Regions from separate parts of the Homo sapiens genome. Here region 2 is linked to region 1. The links come from fine-mapping of genetic effects on gene expression. Tissue or cell type: macrophages. Region 1 holds a variant in brackets; the other region holds the start of a gene. All regions are shown on one strand. Distances are from middle to middle.

Region 1 (8,121 bases):
TCCCTTCCCTTTCACCTTCTTTCACCTCCTTTCCCCTTCTTTTTTCTCTATCCTTGTTTCTCTGTCTGCAGGAATTGAAATGTACAATCACGGGCCACTCAGCAGGCTGGCTGGCTACCATCACCAGCCTTCTTTCCCTCCATCACAGGTCATGAGGCTGCAGTTGCCTTGGAAAAATTCTGGTGCTACCCTCCTCAGTACAGGGAAATTTTCCTGGCTCCATCTTTTTCATTTTGAAGTGGTTTTCGTTTTCATGTCATTTCCCATTTCTATCCAATGGCCTCATGTCTGGATTTACTGTCTCTTCCCAGCCCCTTTGGTTTAATGGCTCAGCTGGGGGATCTGGGCTCTGATTTTTGTTTCCTTTGGGTTAGGTCTTCTCAGATCACCTTTATTTCTACCCTGCCTGGATCACGGTAGAAGCATCAGAAGGGTATGTGATGGCCTCAAGAAAGTCCAAATGCAAAGATACTCCGCCTCCTCAACCCTTGTAAGGCTGGTTGGACACACGTAAAATCAGGAATTGCTGTTAGGATGAGAAAGGTTTATCAAGCTCATGTTTTAAGCTCTGAGTTAATGTTGTTTTAAGCTGACTCAGTCATTAGATTCACACAGCATTGGCTAGGGGCGAGGGGCAGGGGGCAAAAGAGAGAGGAAGGAAACCAAGTGAGTAGGGCTGGAGAAACAGTTTGGGATTTGGGAGCTGTGGGAAGTGAGACAATTAGGGAGGAAAAGGGGGGATTTCTGAGAAGTGGTATGTGGGTGAAATGGATTCCTCTTAGCATTCTTTAAGAGATCTCAATACAGATTTAAATCAAATTATTATTTGTTGGTTGGCTTGCTCTTCTCCAAATGCAGCTCTATACAGAAACTAAGAAACACAGAGCCACAGCTTTTTTCAGTTTATATCAAGACAGAGCCTAAGCTCCTCATCATGGCGGACCAGGTCTTGCAGACACATCTCTCACCATTGTTCCATTGAGAGTTCACATTCAGCCAGACTGGGCTATTTCAGATCCTTTTAATAGGTCAGGTTTTTACTCCCTCTGTCTGAAACTACCTTCCTATTCCCTTTCTGCCTTTCTTAGTCAGTTCATGCTGCTATGAGAAAAGACCATAAACCAGATGGCTTATAAACAGGAGAAAATTATTTCTCCAAGTTCTGGAGGCTGGGAAGTCTATGATCAAGGTGCCAACAGGTTTGGCTTCCTGGTTCATACAGGGCATGTGTCTCATGTGTCCTTACCTGGTGGAAGGGGGCAAGGCAGCTCTCTGCGGCCTCTTTTATAAGGGCACTTACCCCACTCATGAGGGTTCTGCCCTCATGACTTGATTACCTCCCAAAAGCCCCACCTCCTAATTCCATCACATTGAGGGTTAGATCTCAACACAGGAATTTTGGGGAGACACATTCAGGCCATAATACTTCCTTTTTCCTAGCCAATTCCTACTCACAGTTTTAGCTTAGATGTCACTACCCAGCAACCCCAAATCTGGATTCCATGGCTATCTTCTGTCTCCCATAGCACCCCAAAATAATTCTTTCAGACTACATTGTAAGTGTGGATTTGTTGTCTTCTCTACCCGATTATAACCGTTACAAAGGCAGGGGCTGTCTGTCTCACTCACCCCTCTGTGTTTAGCACAATGTCTGATATAGCCTAAACGCTCAATAAATGTCTACTGAATGGATGACTCTGCTCTGACACTGAAGCTTCTTCCAAAATACCAGGATGACTCCTGATGTTCCATATTTCTCCACCCCTGGTGCCACTTATGCCTCCCTTCCTGACAGTTTTCAGACTCCGGAGCAGAGAGTTCACCCACTTCTTTCCCTGGAAGCAAGAATGGAAAGAGCCTCAGCTCCTGGCTCCAGGCAGGCTGTTACCCAGGGGCTCACAGAGCATGAGCAGCCTCCATGGAGTGGGAAGGGCTCTGTGGTGGACCCTCCAGCAGGCAGCATAGCCACCTGCCAGGTGTTCACCTCTCCAGGACTGCCTCTGCCTAGCCTGGACGTAGAACCTAATCTCAAAGAGGACTTTTGTTTTTTAAGGATTTCCTTCCTCAGGCTGGATTTCTCTCCACTTTCCCAAATCCCTGCTGTCCCTAGGATAGGACTCATTTATTCATCTCAGTAAACAAACATGCACTGAGCACTTACCACAGGGAGGATCCCACAACTCGCCCTTGTTATTGTGTAATGTGCAGTCATCTGGTAGAGGCTGCAACCACCCAAAGACACAATCAGAAAGCATGTGGAGGGAGGGGGTCCAGAGAGAAGTCTAATCCAGTCTGAGGGCACTCCTCCAGCCCACTGAGACATCCCTGGGGGATCCTCATTCTTTCCCAGTCAGCCCTCTGTTCTCCATTTATCTCCTTTTCAATGATTCTCTCTTTTCCTTCTTCCCTAGACATCTGGAGTCTCCTGCTGATGTGGGCAGTTTCCTGCTTCTCCTGTAGATAGTGAGAGCCTCACACCCCTACAGGGAGGTGTTGCCTGCAGTCTCAGCTCAACACCCTGGTCACCCTTTGCTCGCACTTGCTGACTTAGTCAGACCTCAGATTGAAGCATCTGAGGATGATGGGCTGTGTGACTAAGGAAGGGGCTGCCCCACCCAGAAGTTTAGATTACATATTTGTGTGCAGGACCTAGCACAGATAGGTCTACCCAGCATAGCTTTTTCTAACTTTGATTTAGACTGAACTCTAGAAGAGCCAAGCAGAATGTAAACCTCATGTTGGGGAGGTCAAGTTACTTTCTAGCTCAAGATTCTAGAGAGACAATTTAGCAACGTGGGCTTTGAGGTCAGGCTGCTAAGGTTCAAATCCCAGCTCTGATACTGGTTAATTAACCATTAGTGGAGTTATTTATCCTCTTTAAACCTGAGTTTCCTCAACTGTAAAACGGGGTAATAATAGCTCATACTTCATGGTGTTTCTGTGAGGATTAACTCAGATAATTTGTGTAAGCCTTCCATAAAGTGCCTGACACATGGCACTCAATAAATGTCAGCTTTATTTTTGGAAACCCGTTTTAGGTATTGGATAGCCCAGACCCCAAGCAAGGCTCTGTGGGAGCCACATCTTGCTGAGAGTGACAGGAAGAAGTTATTTTTAAAACAGATTACATTGCTGGGTTAAGTCCCACTTTTGGACTCTGTTGCCTTTCTCCTTTGATTCCTTCTAGGTGAATCCTAGACGGGTGCCCAGCATTTTGCTTCAATCAACTCTAAGGAAAACACACTCTGGAAAGTCTGCTAATCTAGTCTAGCAACCCAGGGCTGGAAGCTAGGACCAACTAGAGTGACTCACAGCAAATCTCATCTTTCCCTGGAGATGCAGAAAGGAAAGACACCAGACACCGTCACTGAAACTGCCTTGCAAGCCCCCACCTCCCATCACTGCACCAGGAACTTGTGTTTCTCACTTATGACTTGACCCTGGAGGGCTCTCCTCCTCTATGACTCCCCTCTGAGGATGCGGTCACTGCATCAGCCATCTCAGGCAGCACCCTTGAGTTACATGCAAACTGCTTCCCCTCAAAGTTGCGGTACACACCTTACACAGCTGGTATGGTGGGCCGTTGTCAAGTTTCCTGGCTGCCCAGCCCCTTTAAACACCCTTCTTACATTAGAGGAATTTTCCATCCTATGCATCCTGCCTCCTAAAAGTAGAAACAATAACAGTCACTTTCCCAGCCTCCTTTGCAGCTAAGACATAAGCAGGTGGCTGAGGAGCTGCTGGGATGATAAGGTGACATTCTGGGGCCAGATGTGGCATGGACACTGAAGGCAGCAGTGGTGACAATGGTCATGTTCCTGGCAAATTGTGATACAAATTAGAACATCCAGTTGGCGGCAGTGGCGGTGCCACAGCAGTTTTCTCATTAAGCCAGTTCTGCCACGTGTAGTGGAACATTATTCTGCACGTGTAGCCTGGGGCCTGGTTTCCCAGGCTCTGCTGATTCTGTGAGACACCCAACATCCTGTTACTAAACCTTTCCTGCTGTGTCAGCCAGAATTGGCTTCAACTGCTTACCATGA[G/A]GAACCCCGATTCCTACAGGCAAAAACCACAGGGAACACATGGTGGCAACATAGAAGTCAAGTCTTACTGAGATCTCTCTTGCTTAATAGATATGTCCAAACCCTTTAAATTCCTGTGCCCCTGGTCCTGTCCCAAAAGGAAACCTCAGACTTTATGTTTTTTTAGGCAAGTGGAGCAGGTTGTGACCCTGCAATCCAGCCTGAGAAGGCATAAACAGCATCTCAGCATTTGTCAAAGCAGCTTCCTCCAGGGGAGAGGTCAAAGCTGTCTTTGTTGGGATGATTCCAAAACAGGCTCCAGGGGCCACAGCTACAGGCTGAGACCAAAGGCCCTCCTCAGGCAGCTGACACACAGTAAGCAAAGGGCCCGAGGTCATGCCTGGGTCCAGAGCTTGAGGGCTCTGAGGTCAGGCCAACACAAGGAATGGTGACGGGAAAGACTGAGGAGCTCAGGCCCGCTCAGAGACATGTCATGAGTTCCTTGGCTGCAGCTCCTGTCCAGGGCTTGGGAGCAGCCACGTTAAGCCCTTCCAGAGCCCTGGCACTGCTGACAGAAATACTGGCAAGGTGCCTGGTCACATATAAACAAATTATCCTTCCCACACTCCTGAGGAACTGAAGAAGGAAGGCATGGAAGACCCTGAGAACCATGCTGGGACTTCTCTACACGCTCCCTGCTAAGGGTCTTCCTGTTTCCAAAGACCCTCTGGTCAGGACACTTGTCTAGGAGACAACTGGCCTCTGGCTAAGGAACAGAGGGGAGATGAAGACACGGGGTAGCTGGAATGCAAGCTGTGAGTTTGGAGCTCTCTGAACCATCTCTTCCAGGTGACTGGGGGTAGCTGGAATGCAAGCTGTAAGTTTGAAGCTCCCCGAACCATCTCTTCCAGGTGACTGCTTGGCTGAGGTCAGAGAGTCTGGGCCAATATGCAAAAAGAACCATGCCAAGCAGAGCAAGAGGAGAGCTCCAATGTCAGAGTGCGAGGTGTTGAACCCACTGTGCCAGATCTACTTCTGGTGACAGGGGGCAAGAAATTTCCCTTTCTGCTCAAGCTAGTTCGGGGGGTGGCTTTTGCCACTTGCAATCAAAATAGGCCAGACCACCACAGGTTCCTGAGACAGAGCCTTAAACATGTTTCCTGTTCTCTGTATGCTCACAACAGTGGGGACAAGCCATCATTTCATGGAAGGAGAGCCACTGTGCTTCTTCTGGATAGAAAGGCAGCTCTTGTTAGTGCATGACCTATGATTACCCCACAACAGAGCTAACATCATTCAAACATCCACAAAATAGCCTACAGTCATGCACCAAGTCACAGCCTTTTGGAGAAGCTTCAGCATGAAGTCCAGAAGACTTTAGTCTGTAATTCCATATAGATACAGACAAAAGATCCAGGTTTTTTCTCCCCTCCAGCCCTCATCTTTGGCCCTGACACCCTCGGATTGCCAGGCTTGTCTCAGAAGATGCTGGGAACTGTCTAACTGCCCCTACCAAGTTAAGCACAGCAGGAGGCAAATAAAATGAGGCCCCGCCATCCCATTGTCCTGGGCCCCTCCCACCTTGGGCTGTCCAGATTCAGGGCTGGGCACCAAGCTTAAGCCACACTCCCTACATTCTTTTTTTGGGAAGCTGGCACAGACCTCCAGGCCTTAGCCCAGCAGCAACTGTAGCTTTGTTACCCTGGGGCATGGAAATTTCCCTCTCCCTGACAGCCTCATTCATTTGTCTCTTAATTAGACACAGTCCCCCACGGTGCTGTGTCCTCCACTGTGATCTTTGACAAGCTCCTAGAGGGCCTCCCCACTGAGTCATGTGATCAGAGGGAAGTCATCCAGTCCAGCCCCTGCTTTAGGCTCACTCCCAGCACCCCCGCAGCTCCCAGCCCAGAAAGGGAGTCACGTCTCTGAGAGGCAGCTGTACCATTGCCGGCTTTTCAGTTGTTAGAAATTTCTTTTCCCTATTCAGCTAAAATTGGCCTCCCTTCCACCCCATTCCCCTTCTATCTTATCACAGATGTAGTTCATTTTCACATCCATAGGACAGGAATTTATTGAAAAACAGATCTTTTTGTCCTTATAAAAAAAAAAAAACTCTTTTTCACCTAAACAACCTGTTTCCTCTCCTGTTCCTTATGGTTTTCAGACCCACAGCCATTCTATCCATGGTTGCCTGGATACTTTACACAAACAAACGTTAGACTACACTGCAGCATCAGAACTAAAATCTACTTCAGGTGAGGTCTTAAAAAAAAAAAAAGCCCACACATTAGTTAATTATAATTTAACTTATATCCCTCCCCCTCACTGTCTAGAACTTGAATAGTTGGTGAGATAGAAATGGCTAGTTGCCTCCAAATATCCATTTCCCCTTCTTTTCATCAACAGGATCTAATTTTTTAGCTGGGCATACTGTCACCTGGGTAAAACAGTCCAATTCCAATCATCCATTGCAGCTGTGTTACATGTAACTAATTTCTAGCCAAAGAGACATAAGCAGAAATGTGTGAGAAACTTCCTGGAAGCCTCCTTAAGAGTGAGAAGGTGGACCCTTCTTTCTGCCTTCTCCATTCTGCTTCTGGAACTCAGATGTGATGCCTGGAACTCTAGCAGTCATCCTGGACCACGAGGATGTGGACTGTACACTTGAGCAATTAGAAGGGAACTGGTTCCTGACAACTCTGTGTTGCTGGCTGCCCCCACTAGCTTGGGATTGCCTAACTCTAGACTTGTTTTATGCAAAAAAAAAAAAAAAACTTCTCCTTTATTTAAGCTATATAGTATTTGAGTGTTTTCTTAAATATGCATTAAGACCTAATCCTAAATTTGCCACCCTGAAGTTATTATAATGAGTTGTATATGTACCCCAAGAAATTTCTCAACCAGATAATTCTGAAGAAACTCCAGCTCTCATCGCAATTTTTTTCTCTTGTCTTTTTTAATGCTTAACAAAACTTTGCTGAAGACTTAGAGATAACAAAAATATTATAACAAAGGAAACAAATTTGGCATACTCGTTTTCTATGGATGTCCTAACAAATTACCACAAACCTGATGACTTAAAACAATAGAAATTTATTCTCTTCATTCTGGAGTTCTAGAAGGCCAGAAGTCTGAAGCCAGTATCACTGAGCTGAAATCAAGGTGCTGACAGGGTTATGCTTTCTCCAGAAGCTCTAGGGGAGAATCCTTCCTTGTCTCTTCCGGTTCCAGGTGGCTTCTGGCATTCTTTGACTTGTGGTTGCATCACTTAAATTTCTGCCTCTACAGTCACATTGCCTTCTCCTTTTTTTAAATGTCAAATATCCCTCTTCCTCCCTCTCAGGAGGACACATATGATTGTTTTTAGGACCCACCTAACCAATCCAGGATAATCTCTTTTTCTTAAAATCCTTAATTACATATGCAAAGGCCTTTTTTTGCCATATAAAGTAATATTCACTTGTTCCAGGGACGAGGACATGGATATCTTTGGGGAGCCATTATTTTAGCCTACCACACCTGGATGTTACGGAGAGCTCCTCTCAGAGCTGAAGCCCTAAGACGATAGTGGTGTCTTATAGTGGTGGTGTCCCCCACCCAGGTCCTGGTCTGTGTCATACTACAAGGACAAGCTTTCTGTCCAGCACAGAGTCCTGGAGCACACCTCCCATAGCTGAGGTATACATAGTTTCCTGACTCCCCCAGACCCAAAGAGAGGGACCTGTTTCTTATGTTTGCCTCTGCCACCTGCCTTTATATCCCACTGCCAAGTCAAAAGCCCACCTGGCCCATTCTCCATCTCCCGTACGAGGATTGGCCTCTTCATAGGATGATAGACAGTGGGATTGCCCAAAGGGATGTAGGGTCCTAGGACTCTAAAAGTCAATGGATCACCTCAGAACAAAGTGACAAAAGATTCACCTATTCATTCATTCAAAGAAAGGTAAGATTGTAAGGTGGCAAGCCTGTATTGCAATTGGAATCATGTAGGCTTGAGCTATAATGCCATCACTTGCCAGTTACATAATCTCTATAAGCCTTTGTTTCCTCATCCACAAATAAGAAGATAGAAAGGAAAATAATGTCCACATTGCAGGGT
Region 2 (8,104 bases), 250 kb after region 1:
CAAGGCAGGTGGGTCAGTTAAGCCCAGGAGTTCAAGACCAGCCTGGGCAACATGATGAAATCCCATCTCTACAAAAAATACAAAAACTGGCCAGGTGTGGTGGTGCATGCCTATAGTCCCAGCTATAGGGAGGTTGAGGCAGGAGGATCACCTGAATCCGGGGAGGTCGAGGATGCAGTGAGCTGTGATTGCATCACCGCACTCCATCCTGAGCCATAGAGTGTAACCTTATCTCAAAAAAAAAAAAATGCATGTTCCTGGACCCCCCCACCTCTGACCTACAGATCCAGAACCTGTACGCTCCAGCCCAGCCCTAATAGGCTAGTGGCTTCCCTTTGGACCCTTGGGACCAGCCAGTCTAGTCACACCACAACCATTGTCCTCAGAGAAAGCCCGTCTCACCATTTGTCCTCCACAGAACATTCCTCCAACCTCCTCCTCCCGTTCTCACTATTCTCTCCATCGCAAACCTTCCCTCTCTGCCACTTAAAACTTCCACTGCTGAGTGAGCTCCCCTACATCTTCCACTCATTCCTTTCCCTTATGAGCTTAGATGAAACCACCAGGGGAAAAATGGCAGACATGAGCTGCAATGATGGCCACCACCCCAACTCAGGGGAGCTCAGTCATCTTAGGCAGCAGGCAGCTGCAGTGATAATGGCTGCCCCCACCCCCCTGGAAACTCTTAGCAGAGTTAACAGAACAGAGCTGTTAACAAAGCTGTGCAGAGTTAACTTAACAGAGCTGTGCAGATTCTCAGCAGCCACTTGACTGGGGTCTTAGGCAGTCTCCAGTCAAGTGGCTGCTGAGAATCTGCACAGCTCTGTGCTTGGGACCCAAGGCCCTGGTAGTGTAGCTCAAAAGTGGGATCTCCTGATCTGTGGGTTGCGCAGATCCGTGGAAAAAGTACGGTTTTCTAGCAGGGTAGCATGATCACTAACCACCTCCCTTGGCTTGGGGTGGGAGCTGCCCTTTCCCCGTGTGGCTCCCAGGTGGGCCGTCGCACCACCCGGCTTTTCTTCACTCTTCATGGGTCACATCAACTGCTTAGTCAGTCCCAGTGAGAGAACCTGGATACCCTGGTTGCTGGTGCAGGATTCACTTGCCATTTTGGTTCCTCCCAGTGGGAGCCTCTGACCACAGATGTTTCTAGTTGGCCATCTTGGCCTCTCCCCCCAGTACTAATATTTTTATATGAAGAAAATAGTATCTTTGAGGTTTTAAAGGCAACTGTGAAATAAAATTGTTTCACCTCCGGGTGAAAAAAATAAAAATAATAAACAAATAAAAATAAAACTCTGTTGCCTACAGATAGAATTCAAAATGCTTAGCATGACCTATAAGACCTAGCATGACTTGGCCCCTATTTACTTGCCAGCAACAGCATCTGTCACTCTTTTTCTTGAACATTACCTTTTCATTGTTCCCTGCTCACATCACACTGTTTTGTAATTCCACACTTCTCTCTTCCAGGAACATTCACCCCAACCTACCCCTATCCTTCAAAACAGTTCATCCAGGATGGCTGCAGTGACTCACACCTGTAATCTCAGTGCTTTGGGAGGCTGAGGCAGGAGGATTGCTTGAGGCCAGAAGTTTAAGACTGCAGTGAACTATGATTCACGCCACTGAACTCCAGAGAGAGAGAGAGAGAAGAAAGAAAGAAAGAGAGAGAGAGAGGGGGGAAGGAAGGAAGGAAGGAAAGAAAGGAAGGAAGGAAGGAAGGAAGGAAGGAAGGAAGGAAGGAAGGAAGAAGGAAAGAAAGAAAGAAAGAAAGAAAGAAAGAAAGAAAGAAAGAAAGAAAGAAAGAAAGAGAAAGAAAACCAGCTCATCCACCATTTACCCAAAAAGCATTCTTTCCCTTCTTTTGTACTCCTAAGGCTTACCTCTATCTTAGCATTTACGCATTATTTTGAAATTATGTTTATGAACCTGCCTCTTAACACTAACCAAAAGCTATTCAAAAAGAGGGATAAGCCAGGCATGGTGGCTCATTCTGTAATTCCTTTGGGAGGCCCAGGTAGGAGGATTACTTGAGGCCAAGAGTTCAAGATCAGCCTGGGCAACATAGCAAGACTCCATCTCTACAAAAAAATAAAAGTTTTAAAAAGGAGAAATCTTAACTGGTCTTTATGCCCCTGCCCTAAAGCTTACCACAATGCCTGCCACATATTGGACCCTCAAAACAAATTATTGATTAATTTTCACAATGGGACTACAAGGCAGGCATTACAAATGAAAAAAACTAAGTCCCAGAAAGCCAGTTACATTCCAGGGGATGGGAGGGCAGCAACTTGAAACCAACTCTACCGCTAAGGCCTAGGCTCTCTCAAGTACAACCTGGAAAACATGAGTGAGCAAGGAGATGGAGGTGAGAATGAGGTGTCAGGGCACCCACCCAGGACATGATGCGTGAGGAATGGAGGGATATGAAGGTGGACAAGATTCTCAAGGGTGGAAGAATATGGTCATGAGGCCTTGGCATTGTGGCTTCTAAGCAGAGCCCTGATACGCTAAACTGCCTGGCAATATCAGGCCAGGCAGTTTGGTCTGACATTGCCAGTTTAGCTGCCCAGGCATGTCTGCTAGCTAAATCTAAATGCTGGGCCTGAGGTCAACGTCCCCACAAATACCCACAACTCTGCTGCACAACCATATTCAGAGTCCTGCACTTACTCAGCCTCTGCTTGCTGAGCAAGCAGATACTACCTCTCTTGAGCACAAGCCTCCAGGAAGTTCCTAATGTAGATCAAGGTGGGAATATCCATGGAATATCCAAATTATATTAGAAGGCCAGGCAGGGTGGCTCACATCTGTGATCCCAGCATTTTGGGAGGCTAAGGCAGGCGGATCACTTGGGACCAGGAGTTTGAGACCAGCCTGGGCAACAGGAAAAAACCCTCTACAAAAAAAAAAAAAAAAAATTAGCCAGGCATGGTGGCATTCACCTGTAGTCCTGGCTACTCAGGAGGCTGAGGCAAGCGGATCAATTGAGCTCGGAGATTGAGGTTGCAGTGAGCCATGATGGCACCACTGCACTCTAGGCTGGGTAACAGAAGGAGACCCTCAAAACAAACAAGCATACAAACTAACAAACAAAGTATATTAGAAGATAAATAAATATGGACTTGAGTGGACAAGAGCATCTTTGCGCCTCAGCCTCTCCTGAGAGGTGCCTCTTCTCCCACCCACCTTCCAGGGGCCTTCCCCTACAAACCTAAACATAGAAGGCAGCCAATGAAAGGGACCAAGAGGCAGATTCCTGAGATAAGCCAAGGAAAGCCCAGGCCCAGGAGCCCACAGAATGAAAAGAATATTCTCAGACAGTAGCAAAACAGGAAGACTGTTCGACACAGCTGAATGCATGCATCAGAACATGGCCGTCCCCTGCACACCCTTCTCTGGAGCTCTTAGGCTAGAAGATGATTTCTTCTGGACAAGGAAGACACAGGACATGGGGTGAAAATAATTCCAGCAAAAGAAAGCTAAATACACCATCCCGTGTTTACAAAACACAGGAAAAGTAGCGAGGGTATAGAGAACCAAGGATAAAGGCAGGATGCCCTTTTCTGGTAAACTTCATGCCAAACAAAGGTGAAGGGCCAGGATTAGCTCATTAGCGGGGAACTCAGGGCAAGAACACCCTGCCCTCTGTTCTGTCCTCACCTGAATCTCTGGGACGAAGCCAAGTTGTCACCTCCCTAAATGGTTCTAGAAACAGAAGAGTTCATGCCCTGCCTGGGGAAGGGACTTCTAGGTCTTCAGCTCTAATCATATGTTTTATGCACAGGTGGAGACATTCAGATCCATGGCCCTCACCCTGTTTCTGCTCTGCAGACTGAGATAAGAGCCTTACGTTTACAAAGTTTCACAAGAAACTGGAATTTGTTGCCCTTCTTTTCCACCTCCCTTCAGCCAGCTCCACTTTTCCTCGGATGCCATGGAGACTCGTAACCAGCTGGACAGCATACATCCCAGAGCTGGAGGGGAGCACAAGCGACCCTGACTCACCTGCCGTTGCTCAGAAGGGAGAGAAACCTGTGAAACTCGGAAATTCCCTCTGGGGGAGGTGTGGCCAGCTCCCAGGCACCACCTCCGCGGAATCTCTCCAATCATAACAAGAAGAAGGAAAACAAGCAGTTATCCAGTGCTTTCTCTATGCCAGCCATCACGCTCCACAAGTATTATGTCGTTAAAAGTTCCCAACAGCCTTATGAGATGGGCACTGTCATTCTCCCCACTTTGTGGATAAGGAAATAAAGCAGTCGCATAAATTGGTCTGGGGTCACCCTTGGTTTCCCATTGGAGTGTAGGCTTCCTGAGGTTAGAAGTTGTTTTTATGGGCTGGGTGCAGTGGCTCACGCCTGTAATCCCAGCACTTTGGGAGGCTGAGGCGGGCGGATCACCTGAGGTCAGGAGTTTGAGATGAGCCTGGCCAACATGGTGAAAACCCGTCTCTACTAAAAATACAAAAATTAGCCCGGTGTGGTGGCAGGTGCCTATAATCCCACCTACTCGGGAGGCTGAGGCAGGAGAATCGCTTGAACCCAGGAGGCGGAGGTTGCAGTGAGCTGAGATTGTGCCATTGCACTGCAGCCTGGGTGACAGAGTGAGACTCCCTCTCAAAAAAAAAAAAAAGAAGTTGTTTATATGACGCTTTGGGAGTGATATTAAGAACATAAATGCTGACTGACCAACTGAAAGATTCGAAGCACCGTGGGTATTTAATAAATGTTATTATTGATTGCTATTAAAAATCATTAATATGATTTTATATGTCTCAGGAAGCAGTACTACAAATAATTCTGAAGTTACTCTATCAATAACAAATTATGTAAGTGACAAAATTGCATTTGTTCACAAGGCTAGAAATAGAGCCTAATTGTTTTCAGGAATGTGGACATTATTTGTTTTTGTTGATAAGAAAGATTAGCTGCTATGGTATAAGTAACGATATTTAGTTGCTACTACATAGTATCAAATCAGTGCAAAAGGAAAAATCACAGATCACGAGATATATGGCAGAAGTTAGAAGAATGTAAGGGAATTAAATGAATTAAAGGCTGTTTCTGTGACTCAATTAATTAAATGATATTGAAAAGAGAAGGTAGAAAGCTGGATTCAGGGCTGATTTTCAGGAGCCTAGTTGTAAATAATTAGACCACCCCTTGGATGTGTACACGACATCAATACCTCATAGCCTCCACAGGAGCAGGGTTCATCTCCTCCTCCCAGTACCTGCAACAACAGAACCAACACGGAGATGCCAGCACGGAAATTCCCACGATCACAAACCCCACCTTTCTCTTATCATTCTGCTCTACCTTTCTTTTCCCTATATCCTTAACTTCTTACATTTTAAATCTTGTTTTCCTGTAAGCTGCTTTAAGTCCTACCTGAATAAGGCAGGGTATCAGAAAATCAATACACTCTTCAGGAACTTAACCGAAGGGAATTTCCTGTGAGAGCACATGGCCTTGACTTTGCCCCTGGAAAGGTGTCCTCGTCACATCCTTGTCAGACCACCACAGGAACCCACAGTTCATCCTGCCTGTTCCAATTCATGTCCCACTCATTAAACCGTCCTGGTTTTTTTGTTTTGTTTTGTCTTATTTTGTTTGCTGCTGAATCCTCTGGTTAAACAGCAGGAGCAATGCAGCCAAATGTCTTGATAAAATGTCACACCTTTCCATGAAATTTCTAAGTGTAGCTATGCAGGACAGAGGAAGAGCCACTTGTTTCCAGTTACTGACCTAGGTGGGCTTAGTTCTCTTCAGGTTCCTGCAGTGGGTTTCCTCTCAAGCAGAGAATTCTTTCCTCTCAAAGGAAGAAGCCACACTAGCCATGTAAAGAGAGTGTCCAAACCTTCCTCTTCCGCAGCTGGAAATACCTTCCCAGTTCCTCTTCTGTTTGGGGACTGGGAAGCTCTGAGTCCCAACTTCTCTTGTCCAGTTTCACTTTCTCACCCACCAACCCCTGCTCTCACTCTACCACTAAGTGCCCTCAACACTGATCTCTCCCTAAAAGTGACTGAAATAAATGTCCAATTTTGGGGGGATGACTGATTCTAATGTTGGGAAGAGAAGCTTAAAAGATCTGACCTCCTACTCAGTGAGAAAGGGGTCCTTGAACACCCTTCTTGAGACGTAACCTCCCTACTCCTACTTAAATGCTAGCAATTCCTGCTTTTTGCCACAGTAATGCAAGGCATTTCTGGAAGTTACGATGCAAACTAAATCTTTTTAGATCTCTGGTTTCAAAACTTTGGATTTTAGGCACCTAGATAGGTGCTACGTTTTCATTTTGTTAAATAAGGACATTTAAAAAATAAATAGGTGCCCCCTTCTGCGCAGTCACACTGAGCCAGTGCCTAGGCCTGGAACCGGGCCACGGCCCCTCAGCTTCGTCCACCGCCTCCCGACCATGGACCCCCACAAAGTGAATGCACTTCGGGCTTTTGTGAAAATGTGTAAGCAGGATCTGAGCGTTCTGCACACCAAGGAAATGCACTTCCTGAGGGAGTGGGTGGAGAGCATGGGGGGTAAACTATCACCTGCTACTCAGAAAGTTAAATCAGAAGAAAATACCAAGGAAGAAAAACCTGATAGTAAGAAGGTGGAGGAAGACTTAAAGGCAGACGAACCATCAAGTGAGGAAAGTAATCTATTAATTGATAATGAAGATGTGATTGAACCAGACCCTGATGCCCCTCAAGAAATGGGAGATGAAAATGCAGAGATAACAGAGGAGATGATGGATCAGGCAAATCATAAGAAAGTGGCTGCTATTGAAGCCCTAAATGATGGTGAACTGCAGAAAGCCATTGACTTATTCACAGATGCCATCAAGCTGAATCCTCAGTTGGCCATTTTGTATGCCAAGAGGGCCAGTGTCTTCATCAAATTACAGAAGCCAAATGCTGCCATCCGAGACTGTGACAGAGCCGTTGAAATTTATTTCAGCTCAGCCTTACAAGTGGCGAGGTAAAGCACACAGACTTCTAGGCCACTGGGAAGGAGCAGCCCATGATCTTGCCCTTGCCTGTAAATTGGATTATGATGAAGATGCTAGTGCAATGCTGAAAGAAGTTCAGCCTAGGGCACAGACATTGCGGAACATCAGAGAAAGTATGAGCAAAAACGTGAAGAGCGAGAGATCAAAGAAAGAATAGAAAGAGTTAAGAAGGCTCGAGAAGAGCAAGAGAGAGCCCAGAGGGAGGAAGAAGCCAGACGACAGTCAGTAGCTCAGTATGGCTCTTTTCCAGATGGACTTCCTGGGGGAATGCTTGGAATGAGAGGGGGCATGCCTGGGATGGCCGGAATAACTGGACTCAATGAAATTCTTAGTGATCCAGAGGTTCTTGCAGCCGTGCAGGATCCCAAAGTTATGGTGGCCTCTTCCAGGATGTGGCTCAAAACCCAGCAAATATGTCACAATACCAGGGCAACCCAAAGGTTATGAATCTTATCAGTAAATTGTCAGCCAAATTTGGAGGTCAAGAGTAATGTCCTTCTGATAAAGACCGTGCTGAAGGAAAAGCAACCTAGATCACCTTATGGATGTTGCAATAATACAAACCAGCGTACCTCAGGGGTGCTTTGAAGATAATCCATATCCCTCTCCCCCAAATGCAGCTGAAGCATTTACCATGGTTTGCCATTAGGGTATTCATTCAGATAATATTTTCCTACTAGGAATTACAAACTTTAAACCCTTTTTAAACCTTAAAAATATTTAAAACAAATTTAAAGGGACGGTTAATTCTTATATTTTTCTTTACTAATCATTTTGGATTTTTTCTTTAAATTATTGGGCAGGGAAGATACTTATGTATGGAAGATTACTGCTCTAATTTGAGCAAAATAGAAGTTTATTAGTGCGAGGCAAACATAAAAAAATAAGTAAATAAATAGGTGAAGGAGGGGAAAATCTACCATCTATAATCTACAATGACTATAGTTTCATAAAAGAAAGAACAACAAAACATCAGAAAGCTATAACATCAAAATAAAAGGCAGGCTTTAAACCAAATCAACATTTCTTTCTTTATAAAAACTGTCATAATTTTGCCCTCATCTCTGTCATTCCATGAAAACAGGTAAAC

Alleles and levels. Positions count from the first base shown, and alleles are read on the strand shown. Sizes are in standard deviations (SD) of each study's normalised expression.
For the expression in macrophages of the gene that starts at base 4,046 in region 2, allele G in region 1 goes with a higher level than allele A (large effect, 0.77 SD a copy in Nedelec 2016).

The links. PIP is the estimated chance that this variant, and not a neighbour inherited with it, causes the effect.
Region 2: it holds the start of LINC02762, and the variant in region 1 is fine-mapped to the expression of LINC02762 in macrophages (Nedelec 2016, PIP 0.95).

What each region holds. Positions count from the first base shown.
Region 1 is chr11:112,521,327-112,529,447 of GRCh38, reverse strand. The region is part of intron 2 of LINC02763 (long intergenic non-protein coding RNA 2763); the gene reads right to left. Among named protein-coding and RNA genes, the nearest start is that of LINC02764, 30 kb to the left of the region's middle. The variant G/A (reference allele first, on the strand shown) is at 4,044.
Region 2 is chr11:112,266,691-112,274,794 of GRCh38, reverse strand. It overlaps LINC02762 (long intergenic non-protein coding RNA 2762), which reads right to left and starts at 4,046. Exons shown (of 4, transcript NR_126004.1): 1 at 4,012-4,046. It also overlaps the pseudogene ST13P10.